2 separate regions of the Homo sapiens genome follow, and region 2 is linked to region 1. Evidence: fine-mapped expression QTL. Tissue or cell type: putamen. Region 1 holds a variant in brackets; the other region holds the start of a gene. All regions are shown on one strand. Distances are from middle to middle. Region 1 overlaps ANXA11 (annexin A11). Region 2 holds the start of ANXA11 (annexin A11).

What was found.
Region 2: ANXA11 starts here. The variant in region 1 is fine-mapped to the expression of ANXA11 in putamen (GTEx, PIP above 0.99). The same link has a PIP of 0.9 or more in nucleus accumbens and prefrontal cortex.

The regions. Positions count from the first base shown.
Region 1 is chr10:80,173,668-80,181,998 of GRCh38, reverse strand. ANXA11 (annexin A11) reads left to right here. Exons shown (of 16, transcript NM_145868.2): 2 at 5,844-5,892. Among named protein-coding and RNA genes, the nearest start is that of ANXA11, 28 kb to the left of the region's middle. RefSeq lists enhancers at 3,555-4,055, 4,575-5,074, 5,075-5,576. The variant C/G (reference allele first, on the strand shown) is at 4,050.
Region 2 is chr10:80,202,105-80,210,435 of GRCh38, reverse strand. ANXA11 (annexin A11) reads left to right here and starts at 4,899. Exons shown (of 16, transcript NM_145868.2): 1 at 4,899-5,093. LINC00857 (long intergenic non-protein coding RNA 857) reads right to left here and starts at 2,726. Exons shown (of 2, transcript NR_038464.1): 1 at 2,205-2,726. RefSeq lists enhancers at 2,618-3,259, 2,290-3,489, 3,260-3,901, 6,541-6,620, 7,121-7,210 and a silencer at 4,676-5,555.

The DNA.
Region 1 (8,331 bases):
TACTGTGAATGTCCATGAGCAGGTTTTGTGTGCGGCAGAAGTTTTCAACTTATTTGGGTAAATACCAAGAGCATGATTGCTGGATCATTGGTAAAACTATGTTTAGTTTTGTAAGAAACCACCAAACTGTCTTCCAAAGTGCCTATACCGCTTTACATCCCCACCAGCGATGAATGAAAGTTCCCGTTGCTCTGTATCCTCACCAGCATTTGGTGTTATCAGTGTTTTGGATTTTGGCCATTCTAATAGGTGTATAGTAGTATCTTATTGTTTTCATTTGCAATTTATTAATGACATGTTGAGCGTCTTTTCATATGCTTATTTGCCACCTTATATCCTCTTTGGTGAAGTGTCTGTTCAGGTCTTTTGCCTATTTTTTAAATCGTAAGGTTTTCTTGTTGAGATTTAAGAGTTCTTTGTATATTTTGGATAATAGTCCCTTTATCAGATATGTCTTTTGCATTTATTTTCTCCCATTCTATGGCTTGTTTTTCCTTCCTTTCATTTTATTTTATTTATTTATTTTTTATTTTTTTGAGACAGGGTTTCACTTCCATCGCCCAGGCTGGAGTGCAATGGCGTGATCTGGGCTCACTGCAACCTCCACCTCCCAGGCTCAAATGATTCTCCTGCCTCAGCCTCCTGAGTAGAGTAGCTGGGACCACAGTCGCATGCCATGGTGCTCGGCTAATTTTTTTGTATTTTATTTTTGTAACGACAGGGTCTCATTATGTTGCCCAGGCTGGTGTCAAACTTCTGAGCTCAAATGATCTGCCTGCGTCAGCCTCCCAAAGTGCTGGGATTATAGGCATGGGCCACTGTGCCTGGCCTCATCTTGTCATTTTAAAGAATATATCAGCAGGGATTATTGGACCTGCCTGGTTTAAACTATTGTCTTAGTTAATTTTGTGCTGCTCTAACAAAATATCACAGACTGAGTAATTTATAAGCAATAGTAGCTTATTTGGCTCACAGTTCTGGAGGCTGAGAAGATCGTGAGGCTGCATCTGGCAAGGGCCTTCTTGCTGCTTCATAACATGGCAGAAGACATCATGCGGGTAAGAGAGAGCATGTTATACTTTTGTAACAAACACACTGGTGGTAAGGAGCCCACTTCCTCCATAACACATTAATCCATTCGTGAGGGTAGAGCCTCTTAAAAGTACCGCCTCTCAGAACTGTTGTATTGACCATTAAGTTTGCAGCACATGAACTTTGGGGGATACATTTAAACAATAGCAATGATATATTTAAATTTTATGGATACAACCTTATGGGGAAAGTATTTTAAAAAATAAATTGTGTGTGTGTGTGTAAAAACAGGTTAAGGATCTAATGTTAAAAAAAAAAAAAACTAATATACAAATCAATATTCCAGCCACCAGACTGGGGAAGGCCAGTGGAAAATCACTCCATGAAAGCATCCACTGTAGTCCCGGTCTGCTTGGTTTGCTGTTAGGCCCTGAGGGGCAGGGGGTGTCACTGCTGTGTGGCTTCTGGCCCGAGATGATGTTTCTAGGCCCTTGCCTCTCAGCATTAACCTGGTGTAGGCTCTGTTCCCAAATGAGCCCTGTGTTGTCTTTCTGGGGAGGACAGTCCAGAGTCCCAGGCATGGCACTGACACCATCCACCCCTCCTTTCCCTTCTGTATCCCTGAAGTCAGGCAGGACACCAGCAAATGTGCATGGCCTAGCCTTGCTGGTGGCTGGAGCCCATATCTCCACCTCCAATTGTTGGGTAGAGACACAGCAAGGCTTCCCTTTTGGTAGGGGGATGACTGAGTCGGGGCAGTGAGGCTCTTCTTGCTCTGGCAGTTGCCTCCTGTCCCAGTGTAGCATTTCTAGATTCCTGTGTTAGGGGACTCCAGCTAGTACCCTTTTAGAGCCTGTGGAGTTGAATGGTACACTTACGTACACGTAACATGGCTTTAGGGAACAGGCCATTTTGCAGCCACTGAGAAGCACCCCCAGATAGCTGCTCTATGCTTTTGGCATTCACCAGACGCTTTGAGGCTGGCTTCTGATGCAGTGCTGTCATGCCAGACTCCTGTCAACTTTAATAGGGATGGCACCATGTTTGAGAGGCCGAAGAAGAGACCCAGAGCCAACGAACAAGGCATAGGGCTTATTGAGGGGACTTACATATGGGGCGGTCCAGTGGCAGCAGGCTGGATGGAAGGACCACTACTATTTGTAAAAAGCATGCAGTTTGTATAGCATTTTAATTTAGCATCCTCCTTCCTAACCACCTCCACCTGGCAACCTTCATTTAACGCAGAACAAAGGGCCTTGATCTCCTGTATGGCCATGGAATGGCTTAGGGGTTCTGATGTTCCTTATAGATAAGGAATGGATCTCCAGGTTGGCCACAGTTCCTCAGCTCAGAACTCTGAACACACATTCTTCTTAGACTATAGGGTCGTTCTGGGTATGCTTAAGTGATTGCTGTCAGGTGCATCTGTCATACAACTGTGGGGGTGCCTAGGTCTAGTCTGTGTCCCTAGAGCTTACTATTGTGAAGAAGAGTATATTCGTCCATTCTCACACGACTATAAAGAAATATCTGAAACTGGGTAATTTATAAAGAAAAGAGGTTTAATTGGCTCACAGTTCTGCAGGCTGGGCCTATGCCAGGTTGAAGGGCCCAGAATATGGGAGCCAAGGTACCAGCATTTTTAGCCAGCTCTCCAAGTGAGGGAAAGCATGATGCTGGCATCTGCTTGGGGAGGCCTCAGGAAACTTACAATCATGTGGCAGGCAGATCTTAACCTGGCTGGAGCAGGAGGAAGAGAGGTGTGGGGAGGAGGCGCTACACGCTTTTAAACAACCAGATCTCACCAGAACCCTATCATGAGAACAGCACCAAAGGGGGAAATCTGCCCCCATGATCCAGTCAGCTCCCACCTGGCCCCACCTCCAATGCTGGGAATTACAATTCGATTGTATTGTAATTAGAAATTACAATTTGGGCAGGGACACAAATCCAAACCATGTCAAAGAGTGAGATCAGATGAGCTAGAGAGTGTCCAATACCTTAAGGGAAAGAGTGTTTCCTAGAGTGTGGACCACAGAACCAGTTACATCAGAATTACTGGGGACTGGGGGGTATGTATGCTTGTTTACACTTCAGATTCCTGGGCCTATCCCAGGTTAGAAGGCCCAGAATATGGGGGCTAGGGCGCTAGCATGTTTAGTGAGCTCTCCAGGTGATTATCATGCATGATGAAGCAGTGTGGCCTGCAGGCAGGCAGCATCAGCATCACCTGGGAGCCACTGGAAATGCAACTTTTTGGGCCCTGCCCCAGAGACACTGATTCAAAGACTCTGGAGGTGGGGCCCAGCAATCTGTGTTTTAACAAGCCCTATAGGGGACTGTTTTCCAGAAGCACCGATTTAACTGGAGAGGGCCCCAGCTGGATGAAATCAGGTGCACAGCTGCAGGTGGATGGTCGCAGTGAGGAAGGAAGGGCGGTATTTGTGCTGCAGCCTGCCCTGAGAGGCAGGACCAGAGGCCAGAAGGTCCCCAGAGACAGGTTTCTAAGAATTGGACCCATCCTTAAGGAGGCCAGCTGCCTGCTGTGTGCAGGAGGCCCTCTCCAGTGAGTCCCCATGTCAGAGGGCCGTGATTAGAAGCAGGCGTAGAGCGGGGGACATGCCCCAGCCATCAGAATTGCACCAGCAGTGTGAAGCATGTCTCTTGCCCCATGCAAGGAAAGGAGGAGAGAGGCATTGGTCAGGGTGAAAGGTATGATTCTCATGGATGCCAGAGAGAGAGAGAGAGAGAGAGAGCAGATCTTCTGGATTATAGCTCACTGTGTTGCCTCTCTCCTGGGGAGTGGGTGCTGGACAGGCTAGGGAGGGGGACCCGAGGGCCTTAGAAGTCTTGCCGAGCCCAGATATGGCAGCCCTGGGGTGCCAGGAACGACTTCTCCAAGGACAGCCCCTTGCGGTAGCCTCTTTTGAAAAAATGCAGAGGTCACAGTTACCAGAAGACTGGACCATGAGCAGATTTCTTAATTTTCAAAGAAAAGGAGGAGAAGAATGCTGCTT[C/G]TGTGAGTCAGAGAGCAGTGTGCTAATCCTGCAGCCTCTAGCCTCCTAGAACATGGATAGCTTGGGGGGAGATTGGTCAGCGCTGGGAGCCTGTGTCCACCTGAAGGTCACCCCTGGCTATTGGGCTGCGTTTACTTTTCTCCTGGGGGTAATTAGGCAGATAAACAGGCTCTCTTCAGAGTAAATGTGCTAGAACCCTCACTTGGGCATGTGGAGAAATGTGTACTGGGTGGTGGCAGAGTGAGTTGGGGGAGAGCTGGTTAAATGCCTGCACCCACATGATGCCTAGTGTTTGATGTTGAACTGGGGAGTTCTGAGTATGACAGTTCTGTAGTGTCCCTCGTTGTCCCTTTCGTCTTGGTTACTTGGCAGAACACAAATGCCATGCTTATTGCATCCATGGATGTAAAACAAAGCTGAGAGAGAGGGGGAAGATGTTTGATGTTGAGCAGAATCCCAGAAGGTCTCAGGAGACTGGAGCAATGGGCAGAACCCAGGGGAGAAATTTCACAGGAGCCCACATAAGGTCTCCGTGGCCTGAAAACCCACTTGTACCAGTCCGGGGAGGTAGGGAGTAGCATCCACTGGAGGGAGATGAAGGTCCCGCCCTGCACTCTTCAGACCATACCTGGGGCGTTTGGTCCTGAAAAGAACTAAAAGATAAGAGTGGGGTCAGGCCAGGCATGTAATCCCAGAACTTTGGGAGGCTGAGGCGGGCGGATCATCTGAGGTTGGGAGTTCGAGACCAGCCTGGCCAACATAGTGAAACTCTGTCTCTACTAAAAATACAAAAATCAGCCTGGTGTGGTGGCAGGTGCCTCAGGTGCCTGTAGTCCCAGCTACTTGGGAGGCTAGGGCAGGAGAATTGCTTGCACCGAGGAGGTGGAGGTTGCAGTGAGCTGAGATTGCGCCACTGCACTGCAGCCTGGGTGACACAGTGAGACTCCGTCTCAAAAAAAAAAAAAAAAGTGGGGAGCAGGCTTGAAACTATTTCAGGCAGAGAATGACAGAGGGAAAAATGAGGCTATTCTTTCTAAGAACGGAGGACTAGAGGTATATCTTGGGGAGAGGGGAAGACCCAGGGTCGCAGGACCACAGCTCACAGTGGGGTCGACCTGCCCTGTGGGGCCATGCAGGGCAGAGCTCCTAGCCAGGAGGCAGATTTTGACTCCTGCTGGGAACTCCCTTAAAAGCCACCCCAAGAATGAGCTCCACGAGCGCCATCAAGGCTGGCCTGCAGGCCCTCCAGGGTTACCAAGGCTGCCTGGAACTGAATGGACCCTGTGTGTGTTCTTTTAGTCTTGGAAGACCAGCCAGGACTTTGGGGGCCAGACGGCTAGCCTCAAGTGAGCTCAGAAATCTGCACCTGAATTGGGCCTTTTTAAAAGTTGTTTAATGGCCAATACATACATGCAGCAGAAATGCACAGGGAACAGATCTAAACCGGAAGCCTCATTTTCTAGCCCCACCTTTCCTCTCGAGAGGCAGCTAGTGTTAGCTAGTTTCTTGTGTGTCATTCCAAGGATGTCCGTGCACGTCTACACTCAGGAACCACTTAGTTTGTATGTTTCTGGGTTTTTTATTAGCTTAGTACATACACAGTACTGCACCTTGATTAATAATGGTGGTCATTGCATCTTTCCATATACAGAGCTGGCTAAATCCAGAAATAGCTACAGAGTATCCATTGTTGGATCTGTTGTGGTTTATTTAACCAGCCTCATTGGTGGAGGTTTAGGAGTTGTTGCAGATAAGGCTGTAGTAAAATTCATGTCTGTATGACATTTCACACAGGTGTGTGTCTGGGGAAGAGACTTACAGAAGTGGAGTTGCTGAGTCAAAGGTATGTCATTTTAAGTTTTGATATCTTTGTATTTTATTTATTTATTTATTTTGGAGACGGAGTCTCGCTCTGTCACCCAGGCTGGAGTGCAGTGGCATAATCTTGGCTCACTGCAACTTCCGCCTCCCAGGTTCCAGCCATTCTCCTGCCTCAGCCTCCCGAGTAGCTGGTATTACAGGCACCCACCACCACGCCTGGCTAATTTTTGTATTTTTAGTAGAGACAGTGTTTCACCATGGCCAGGCTGGTCTCGAACTCCTGACCTCAGGTGATCTGCCCACCTCGGCCTCCCAAAGTGCTGGGATTACAGGCATGAGCCACTGCGCCCAGCCGACATCTGTGTATTTTTAATTGGTGATTTCCTCAGCACATTGGTGAAGGTGAGCATCTTCAGCTCCTTTTCTGTAACTGCCAGATCTGTTCACATCATTTGACAGTTTCTCTAGTGGTTATTGATCTTTTTCTTATTATATTAATAAAACTTTTTTCCTAAGTTTTTTTCTCATCTTTATTTTTTTTTAATTTGTCTCTTATGCTGAAATTTTATTTATGTCGTTGGTTTTTGGGGCTACTTCTTTCACTGCATTATTTGGCCTGGCTGGAATTTACTTGGTATAAGGAACAGGGTGGTATCCAGCTTCTGTTTCTTGGGTTTTTTCCCTGGCCTGGCTGTGGATGGAGCTTTTGGCTTCATTTCTCTGAGAGGAGGCCAGGAGTGGAGAGTGTCTTTGGTGCTCAAAGGTCCTGCCTAGTGGTGTCTCCAGAGAGGAAGGTGACAGAGACACCATCCCGGCTCTTCCTGCTCACCTGTCGGGCAGTTCCTTCTATTAGAAGGTTCCTGGCCTACTGGTCATTTACATCCCCCAGATTACCTCCTCACCAGTGAAGTCTGAGGGTTTGGCAGAGTCTGGGCAGAAGGGTCAGGCTGGGGCCGGGACGGGGAGGGCTTTGTACTGACAGCCCACCCAGCCTCAGGGACACCCTCTCTGAAGGTGATGCCACCGGGGACCTCATCCACCACGTGCTTAGGGGCTCAGAGAGACCGAAAACTGCAAGGAGTAGGTCCTTGGTCCACACTACAGGGAGCCAATTCCAGCTTTCTCCAAAGCCATAGGGCTTTGCCTACGGTCACCTCTGGACCCACTGACCCAAACAAATGACTACACCCGTAGGGCTGAAAACCAGGCCCACCCTATGGGGACCGGTGGTACCTTAAGGAAGTTCTTTAGCTTCCTTAAAAACAGCATGTAGGCTGGGCACAGTGGCTCATGCCTGTAATCCCAGCACTGTGGGAGGCCGCAGCGGGCAGATCACTTGAGGCCAGGAGTTCAGACCAGCCTGGCCAACATGGCGAAACTCCATCTCTACTAAAAATACAAAAATTAGCCAGGGATGGTTGCGCCCTCCTGTTGGAGGCTGAGGCACAAGAATCCCTTGATCCCAGGAGGCGGAGGTTACAGTGAGCTGAGCTCGCACCACTGCACTCCAGCCTGGGTGATAGAGTGAGACGCTGTTTAAAAAATAAAAGTAGGCCAGGCATGGTGGCTCATGCCTGTAATCTTAACACTTTGGGAAGCCGAGGCAGGCAGATCACCTGAGGTCAGGAGTTCGAGACCAGCCTGGCCAACATGGTGAAACCCTGTCTCTGCTAAAAATACAAAAATTAGCCAGACATGATGGCGGGCGCCTGTAATCCTAGCTACTTGGGAGGCTGAGGCAGGAGAATCACTTGAACCCAGGAGGCAGAGGTTGCAGTGAGCCGAGATCACACCATTGCACTCCAGCCTGGGTTACAGAGTGAGACCCTGTCTCAAAAAAATAAAAATAAATAATAAAAAAACTTAAAAAGAACAGCATATACCAGCCTCGGCAACATAGTAAGACTCTCAAAAAAAAAAATTAGCTGTGTGTGGTGGCACATGTCTTTAGGAGGCTGAGGCGGGAGGATTACCTGAGCCCAGGAGGTCCAGGCTGCAGTGAGCCATGATTGTGCCAGTGCACTCCAGTCTGGGTGACAGAGCGAGACCCTGTCTCAAACAAACAAAACCCAATATGCCCAGTTCTTCAAGATAGATATGAAGGGCAGCTAGACTCTTATAGTTGGATAGCGTGGCTAGAACAGTGGTCTTCAAAGTGAGTTCCCTGGACCAGTAACATCATCTGGAAACTTGTTCCAAATGCAAAAACTGGTTCCACTGTCTCAGAAACTCTTGGTGGTGGAGCCCAGCAATGTGTTTTAACAATCCCATCAGGTGATTCTGATATGCATTGCAGCGTGAAACCCAGTGTGTAAAAAGAAGCCACATACTCGAGACGAGCAGGTGTGATTGTTGAGGGACCCTGCAGGTTTCCTCACATGTCCGCCTGCCATTGGGTGTCTCTGCAGACTGCAGCAGCAGCTGCTATTAGCAAGAGCAGGCAGGTTGCACAATGTGGCTG
Region 2 (8,331 bases), 28 kb before region 1:
CAGAAATCCAGCTGCTATCAGATCTCTAGCTGGAATGGCTTGTCAGACTGTGGTACCCCAGCGGGGGACAGAACCCAGGAGAAAAAGCAGGTTTAGAGAGAAAAAGTTCATTTCTTGACATGATAAATTTGAGCTTTTGAGGGATATTCTGGTAAAGGTACTAGTAGGCTGGTATTTATTGATACATCTGTAATTCTTGTACCTCCCTCCTATTAAAGAAAATTCAAACAATCCAAACGAATGCAGGGAAAGAGAAAAAAGAAACAACAAGAAAGCATATTGTACATGATATTTGAAATATTAAGCCACTGGTGTAGCCTGTTTGCTGACTAATTAGAATCTTAGAAAAGGTCCTAGAGGGTCTCCCTGTGAGAAGCATTGACCCTTTTTTGCCAGATCAGAAGAAGGTCAGGAGTGGGGGCACTGTGGGGTCTCAGGTGAGCAGCTATTTACCAAGCAGCATGGAAGAATTCCAGTTTGTAATAATTTATAGGATTTTATCAATGTGTTCTAGATGAATATCCATTTCAAGGGTATATGTATAACACAAATGATGGCAGAAATAAACCCAAATATTTCTGTTATTCTTATCAATGTGAACTGGTTAAACTCACAAATTAGAAATAGAAACTCAGATGAACTTTTTAAATCTTGTAAAAAACAATATGTCATTTCCAAGAGATAAACCTAAGTAACAATACAGAAAGAGTAAAAAAGGAGAAATAAAACATATACTAGACAAATGCTATCTCAGGATAACAATATTTATACAAAAAGTAATAAAACTGAATAAGTCATAAAAGGATAAAACAATATTAATTTGTATAAGCCTAATAATTTGCTCTCAAAATTATAAGGCTGGCCGGGTGAGGTGGTACATGGCTGTAATGCCAGCCACCTAGGAGGCTGAGGCAGGAGGATGGCTTGAGGTCAGGAGTTTGAGGCTGCAGTTATAATCACACCTGTGAATAGCTACTGTACTCCAGCCTGGGAAACATGGTGAGACACTGCCTCTTAAACAAAAATCAAAAAACCAAAAAAAATAGTATAAAGCAAAATCAGACTAAATTAGAGGGAGAAATTGACAAACTACAATAAAAGTGGGAAATGTTAAACCTACTCTTTCAGAAATCAATGGATTGAACAGGAGAGAAAAAAAAAAAAAACCCAGGAGATAAAAGATCTAAATAACCTGATTAGCAAGCTAGATGGAGAGATATAGAGAAAAAAAAACCACATAAAAAGTGAAGAGACGTTCACAAAAATTGGGACAGCCAAAAAAAGTCTGTATATGAGGCCACAAAGGAGGCATTAACAAATTCTAAAAGAACACATTTCCTCATCTCCAAGCATTAAAGTTAGAGATCAATGACAAAATGATTGATTTATTTTTATTTAAATTTTTTTTTGTAGAGGGGCTCTCACTGTGTTGCCCAGGCTGGTCTTAAACTCCTGATCTCAAGCGATCTTCCCACCTTGGCCTCCCAGAGTGCTGGGATTACATGCCTGAGCCACTGGGCCCCTCCCCAAATGATTATTATTATTTTTTAAAAAACTGAAGTTTGAAAACAAAAAAAGAATGGAAAATATACGTCTAAATAATCCATGAATTAAGCATACAATCCTAACATAAAAAACAAAATATTGGCCAGGCACAGTGGCTGACGCCTGTAATCCCGACACTTTGGGAGGCTGAGGCCGGTGGATCACTTGAGGTCAGGAGTTGGAGACCAGCCTGGCCAAAATGGTAAAACCCCATCTCTACTAAAAATTAAAAAATTAGCCGGGTGTGGTGGCGTGCACCTGTAATCCCAGCTACTCAGGAGGTTGAGGCAGGAAAATCTCTTGAACCCGGGAAGTGGAGGTTGCAGTGAGCTGAGATCTTGCCACTGCAGTCCAGCCTGGACGACAGAGCGAGACTCTGTAACAACAACAACAACAAAATCCAAATATGTATAACTAAGTGATAACAAAAGCATAGCATATTAAAACTTGTGATATTCAGCTAAAGCAGACTTTTGAGGGAAATGATAGTCATATATACTTATTAGAAAACAACAAAAGAGGCCGGGTGCGGTAACTCACACCCGTAATCCCAACACTGGCCCTAAAATTAAAATTTTTAAAAAGGAAGCTTATATACCATACTACTCAGAGCTATATAGCACGTCACCATTTTTTACAGTGCACTCACCTTCCCTTACCTTGTATGATGTTTCTATGAGCCCTGGGAAACAATGAAGCAGGGGTGATTTTATGGATTTTTATAGGTCACGTTGAAGATTTTATAGGTGAGAAAGCCGAGGCTCGGAGGATGCATGACTTGCAAGTGTCAGAATCAGAACTAGAATAGATCCCACACATTTGAACACCGAGTTTGGTGTCTTTTCCTTCACACCGCGTTCTCTGGGGGTGCCTGGGCGGTGACCCCTGCCATTGGCCTTGAGGATTAGGGCCTCAGCTCGGGTCCTCTGCAGAGCCTCCTCAGTCCCTAGCAACTTGCTGGCACCTAGCCGGGGCTAAACGCAGGTTTGTTGAAAATTATAAAAGGGTAAGCCCAGGGGTAGCTATTCACCATTCTGGGTTTGAAGAGCTCTGATGCAGAAAGGTGTATACATCCAGCAGGAATTCCACCCTACATGATTTATTATAAACGTGGTATTCTAGGAGCATTCGCTCAGCCACGGAGAAAAATGGGCCTTTCGAAGAAGCTGGCCTTCGCGGTCGCTGTGGGGCGGCAGAGCAGGCGCAGGCGTCCAGGCAGTGGGGGCTGGGTAGGCGCCAGGAGACCTTCCCGGACCAATCCCCGGGCCCAGAGAGAGCGCCTGGAGACCTTACCTCCCCAGGAAATTCACACAGATTTCTTGGGGGCTTCACACCCGCGCCCCCAGTCCCGCCATCTCCTACGCCGCAGCAGGCGCCCCCACCAGGGTAATAACCCACTCTGAGAGTCTCTGGTGGTGCCTCTGATCCTCTGCTCTTCTGTTCCAGGCAGCGTTTTCTCCGAGCGGCTCTGGAGACTTTGGCCTGAGTTTCACCCTCACTCGCCGACTCATGTCCAAAAAATGCAGTCCAGCCCCGAAAGAGAGCCGCGCCTGCTGGTGGGGGTAGGGGGTGTTGGAGCGGCCACGGAATATGACTGAGCGCCCGGGGCCCGTTGTGAGGCCGGGGCCAGGCTGTCCCAAGGCACCGTTCCTGCCCGGCACCAGCACACCTGCCCAGACAGGGAGAAGGTCGGAGCCTCCCCTCCAGTCCTTCCGGATTTTATTGTTCAGAGCGACTTTAAAACGCAAATCGGGCCGGGCGCGGTGGCTCACGCCTGTAATCCCAGCACTTTGGGAGGCCGAGGCGGGCGGATCATTTGAGCCTAGGAGTTCGAGAACAGCTTGGCCAACATAGTGAAACCCCGTCTCTACTAAAAATGAAAATTAGCCGGGCGTGGTGGTGGGCATCTGTAGATCCAGCAACTCAGGAGGCCGAGGCAGGAGAATCGCTTGAACCCGGGAGGCGGAAGTTGCAGTGAGCCGAGATCGCGCCACTGCACTCCAGCCTGGGCGACAGATCGAGACTCCGTCTCAGAAAAAAAAAAAAAAAAAGGAAAATCGAACCAGCAGCTTGTTTGTAACAGCCAAACATAGGCAACAACCTAAATGTCCTTCAGTAAGGAGCTAGGTAATGAAGAATGGTGAAGCGCACGATGGCGCGCAGTGTGCAGTGGATGGGAAGAACCAGGTCTGTTCAGGAGCACTTGTATGGAAAGACCCTCCAAGATATAGTGAGTAAAAAAACATGTTGCAGAAAAGTACTGCAATATCGTTTTGTAAACAATACGTTTATGTAAACACACACACACAGTGTTAAAGAGAGATATTTGGAAGGACACACCTAAGAGTGGGCTGGGGGAGTGGAGGGAAGAGTGAATCTCAATTTTTACTCATTTTTTGAATTTTTTATTTTTAGTTTTTTAGAGACTGGGTCTCACTATGTTGCCCAGGCTAGTCTGGAAGCCCTGTCTTCAAGCCATCCTCCTGTCTTGGCCTTCCAAAGTGCTGAGATTACAGGCGTCAGCCACCACTCATTAAAAAAAAAAATTGTATACCTACCATATATGCATATATTACCTGGGTGACCTTTTAAAAATATGCTTTATTTTTAGAACATCTTTAGATTTACAGAAAAAGTGTGAATACAGGGAATTCTCATAAACCCGGGCTTTTCCTATTATTAACATCTTAAGTCATTTTTATATCTCCGTGGGTTCCTCTTGGCTGTGACAGTGTCCTAGACTTTCCTTGTTTTTGATGACCTTGCTAGTTTTCAGGAGTACTGGTCATGTATATGGCAAGGGCCTCAATTGATTTGTGATGTTTTCCTCATGATTACAGTGGGGTTAGGTGTTCTTGGGAGGAAGACCACAAGCGGTGCATGCAATCAGTATGATTTACCCCTGTCGAGGTCACCTTGACGGCTGGGTGGTTTGTCAGGTTTCTCCACGATAGTCACTGACCGCTCCCTTCCTCACATACTGTGCGTGACCTTCCCCCCTCCACCACCACCGAGTGTTGCTATAAAGGAAATGCGTTTGACCTTTTCAGTGTAAAAAGTTTTCTCGACCTTAAAGAGAGTCACTAACCGACGCACACGGGGCTGGAGAGGACTTAGGAAATGCCCACCCCTGCAGGAGGGCGAATGCGGCTCTGCGCGGCACTGGGCGCCGCAGGGGTTAGGGGCGGCAGAGGGACCTCCGGAGCCCGAGACTTCCTGGAGCAGCTCCGCAGCCGGAAGGCTGCTGCTCCTCGCGGGCCCGCCGTGCCCAGTCCTCATCTTGGGGGCGGGGCCGCGCTCAGGCCCCGCCCCTCCCTTGCACTGCCTCTGGCACCTGGGGCAGCCGCGCCCGCGGAGTTTTCCGCCCGGCGCTGACGGCTGCTGCGCCCGCGGCTCCCCAGTGCCCCGAGTGCCCCGCGGGCCCCGCGAGCGGGAGTGGGACCCAGCCCCTAGGCAGAACCCAGGCGCCGCGCCCGGGACGCCCGCGGAGAGAGCCACTCCCGCCCACGTCCCATTTCGCCCCTCGCGTCCGGAGTCCCCGTGGCCAGGTGAGTGAGGGTCCCGAGCCGGCTGGGGGCCTGGGACCAGGCGGCGGCAGTGCACCGCGGCGCCGCGGGTGAGGCCCGGGGCTGCCTGGCGCCCAGCCCAGCGCGGCCCTGCGGCTTCCTGGTTGCACTACAGGCGTGGGGGTGGGGGGCAGGGGAGGGCGTCGGCGGGTCGCGGGCGGGCCGTGTCGGCCTGGCAGCCCCCTAGATCAGCCTCGGCGTCTGGGGCTGCTCCCTCATGTGTGGTCGGGGTGCACTCGCCGTCCCCCCGGGCTCAGGGGTCGGGGTCTCAGTCTGGGCCTGGGTAGGGCCAGGGGCCGTGACCCTGGGCGCAGGAGGCAACGGGTGGCGGGAGGGGTGCCGGAGGCCCGGCCCCGCAGCCCTGCGGAGCCCTCCAGGGTGCGCGCGCCCTTCTAGGCGAGGCTTGGGGAGATTAAGCAGAGAAGGCTATCTTCAGGAACTTTCCTCCGAAACTGGGAGCACGCACATTCCTGGGAGCTGCTACCATTGCAGTTTATTTGTAAGGAACTCTCCCCAGTGTTTGAGGGAATGCGGGAGCCATCCCAGGTGCTGTGCGTGCCTTCGCCCCTTCCCCAACCTTGATCCCCAGTTTCAGGAAGGGATTCCTGGACTTGTATCTCCCATGGGTGCAGGCCAGGCCCTTAAGACTTAGGTAAAATGGTCTGTTGGTTTAAAGGAGACACGCGAAGTTTGTTACCTAGAGACTTTGGAGGGGAAAAGTTAAGCCAGCCAGTGCTAGCCCAAGCTGGAAACAGTCAGCCCGGGGCATTTCTGTCTCTGCCCTCCAATCCTTGACCTCTCTGTAGAGATTCGGCGTTTGTGGTAGCTCTCCCCTCTGTTCTCTGCGCTGGGCATGGAGTGGAGCTGTGAGGCCGAGCCCCTGCCCTGCCCTGCCCTGCCCTGCCCACGCAACAGGGACTAGGTTTGCAGGGCAGGGCCTGGTATGCTCACCCTTCACTGGCTCTCATTGCTTTCCTCATTCCTTTTATGCGGCAGTCAATTGTTGGGGATTCCAGGGGATTAACAGGGCCCCTTTCCTCAAGGCATTCTTTGTGCTGCAAGGTGTTCCCTGATAAGAGAGGCCAGGTGAGGTGCCAGGGCAGTTTGTTGCCCTGGCATTGGGTGCCCACTACTTCAGGCTCCTGCATACCTTGCTATCTTTTCTTTGACTATTGTCTGTGCTTTGGTTTTTCATCTGTAAAATGGGGGTAATAGTAATCCCTGCCTCACAGGCTTGTGAGATTCAGTGCATTCATTTATTTAATAACAATACAGAGCTCAGGTACGGACCAGTCAGAACAGGTGGTGACTGCTGCACCACACTTGTGTATCCCAGATGGGTGTCACCCACATTAGCCATAAAGTGTGTGAGGCAGGCCTGGGTCATAAATAATCAGGTGTAAGGGTCAATAAATAGTAGCAGTGGAAGGTTCAGCTAAAGTTGAAATGCACTTCTCCTGAACCGTCTTTCTGGCTTAGCTCATGCTAAGCTCATGCTCTCTGTCTTACTGGAATGCCCTCCCTCCCCTGTCTGGCCTAGCATTCTCCACCCTCCTGGGAGCCATCCGGGTGCCTGCTCCCAGCAGGAGGGACGGGATATGCTCTGAGCTCACTCAGCCCTTCTGGCACTGACTCGGTTCTCATCTCTCGCCTTGCATAGTATTTGTGTGGCGGTGTGGCTTATCGCTGCCCTGTCCTCTGACTCTGGAGGGTGGGGGCTGTTTCTGACTTACCTCTTGGTGGCAGCACTCAGGATGGGCCTTGCCTAATGTAGGTGCTCAGAAAATTAGTTGTCGTTAGTTGAACAACAGAGACAGCACAGGGAAGTGGTTTCCCTGTGGTTAAAATATAGGACCTTGAAGGCTGGGTTTGGATAGAGAAACGTGGGGAGGGTGAGATGGAGATGAATTGGGACTAAGAGGTGGGAGTGGAAGCCTCACCTGACGCCTTTATGCATGATACTATAGAAAGGGCCCACCCTGGGTGGATGTGTCTAGAAGGCCAGGATCGATTAGTGATGCCTAGTTCACGTGATTGGGGAGGTGATGTGTGGCTTGGGATGACAGGAGTGGGAGTTGAGACAGAATAGGTTAGTGTGGGTTCTTCTTGGAAATTGTAGAATAGAGAAAAGAAACTGGTGTGGGCAGGAGCTGAATGTGGAACCAAAATGCATGCTGAATGCTGGAACATCAGAGGTCCTGGGACCTTTCTGGTGCACCCCCTCCTTCCTCCTGGATTCACCCCTCTTCTTCTGCTGTCTTTTTTTTTTTTTTTTTTTTTGAGACAGATTTCGCCCTGTCACCCAGGCTGGAGTGCAGTGATGCAATCTTGGCTCACTGCAACCTCCGCTCCCTGGGTTTAAATGATTCTCCTCCCTTGGCCTCCCGAGTAGCTGGGATTACAGGCATGCACCACCATGCCCGGCTAATTTTTGTATTTTTAGTAGAGACGGGGCTTCACCATGTTGGCCAGGCTGGTCTTGAACTCCTGACCTCAGGTGATCTGCCTGCCTCAGTCTCCCAAAGTGCTGGGATTACAGGCATGAGTCACCGTGCCCGGCCTCCTCTCTCTTCTTAGCCACTGTTTTCCCCCGTAAGCCTGAAGCAGTTCCTGGCACTTGTTCCCATGGGGAAGCGTCTGTGTAAGGGTATGCTTCACCAGCACTGCCAAGGAAGTAGACTTTTCACTTTCTCTGGATTTTTCTCTGCAACACCCTCTGATCCCATTGCCCCCAGAATAGTAGGAATTTTGAGTGATACCTAGATAGGAAAGCTCTTAGGATTAATGAAGAAACTGAGATTTTCTTGGTGGGAGTTTGTGCTTTTAAAGGGAGTTGTTGCAATTCAATGGAACTCTGTAATAACCACTGAAACTGTTACACATTAGGCTTACTGACCCTATCTCCTATAACCCATGAAATAAAGACCTGATAGTCACATAGTTGTTTGCTATTTGGGAGGATCCTAAAAGTACAGCCTGAACAGTGACCCAAACCACAGCTGGCCTTGCCCATGCTGATGTGAGGAAGGAATGGGTGGGGGCAACTAAGAAATTGGGGGACAGAGTTCTCTGTGCTAGGTATCCTAGGACAAGCCACCCAGCCACACAGAGACCCCCCGCTTCCCCCCCACAGAACAGTTCTGGATGATAAAATGCCTGCCTGGAATGGAGAATCAGATGAGAAGATGTTTGCAAAGGGGTTTGAGATCAGTTAGCGGGT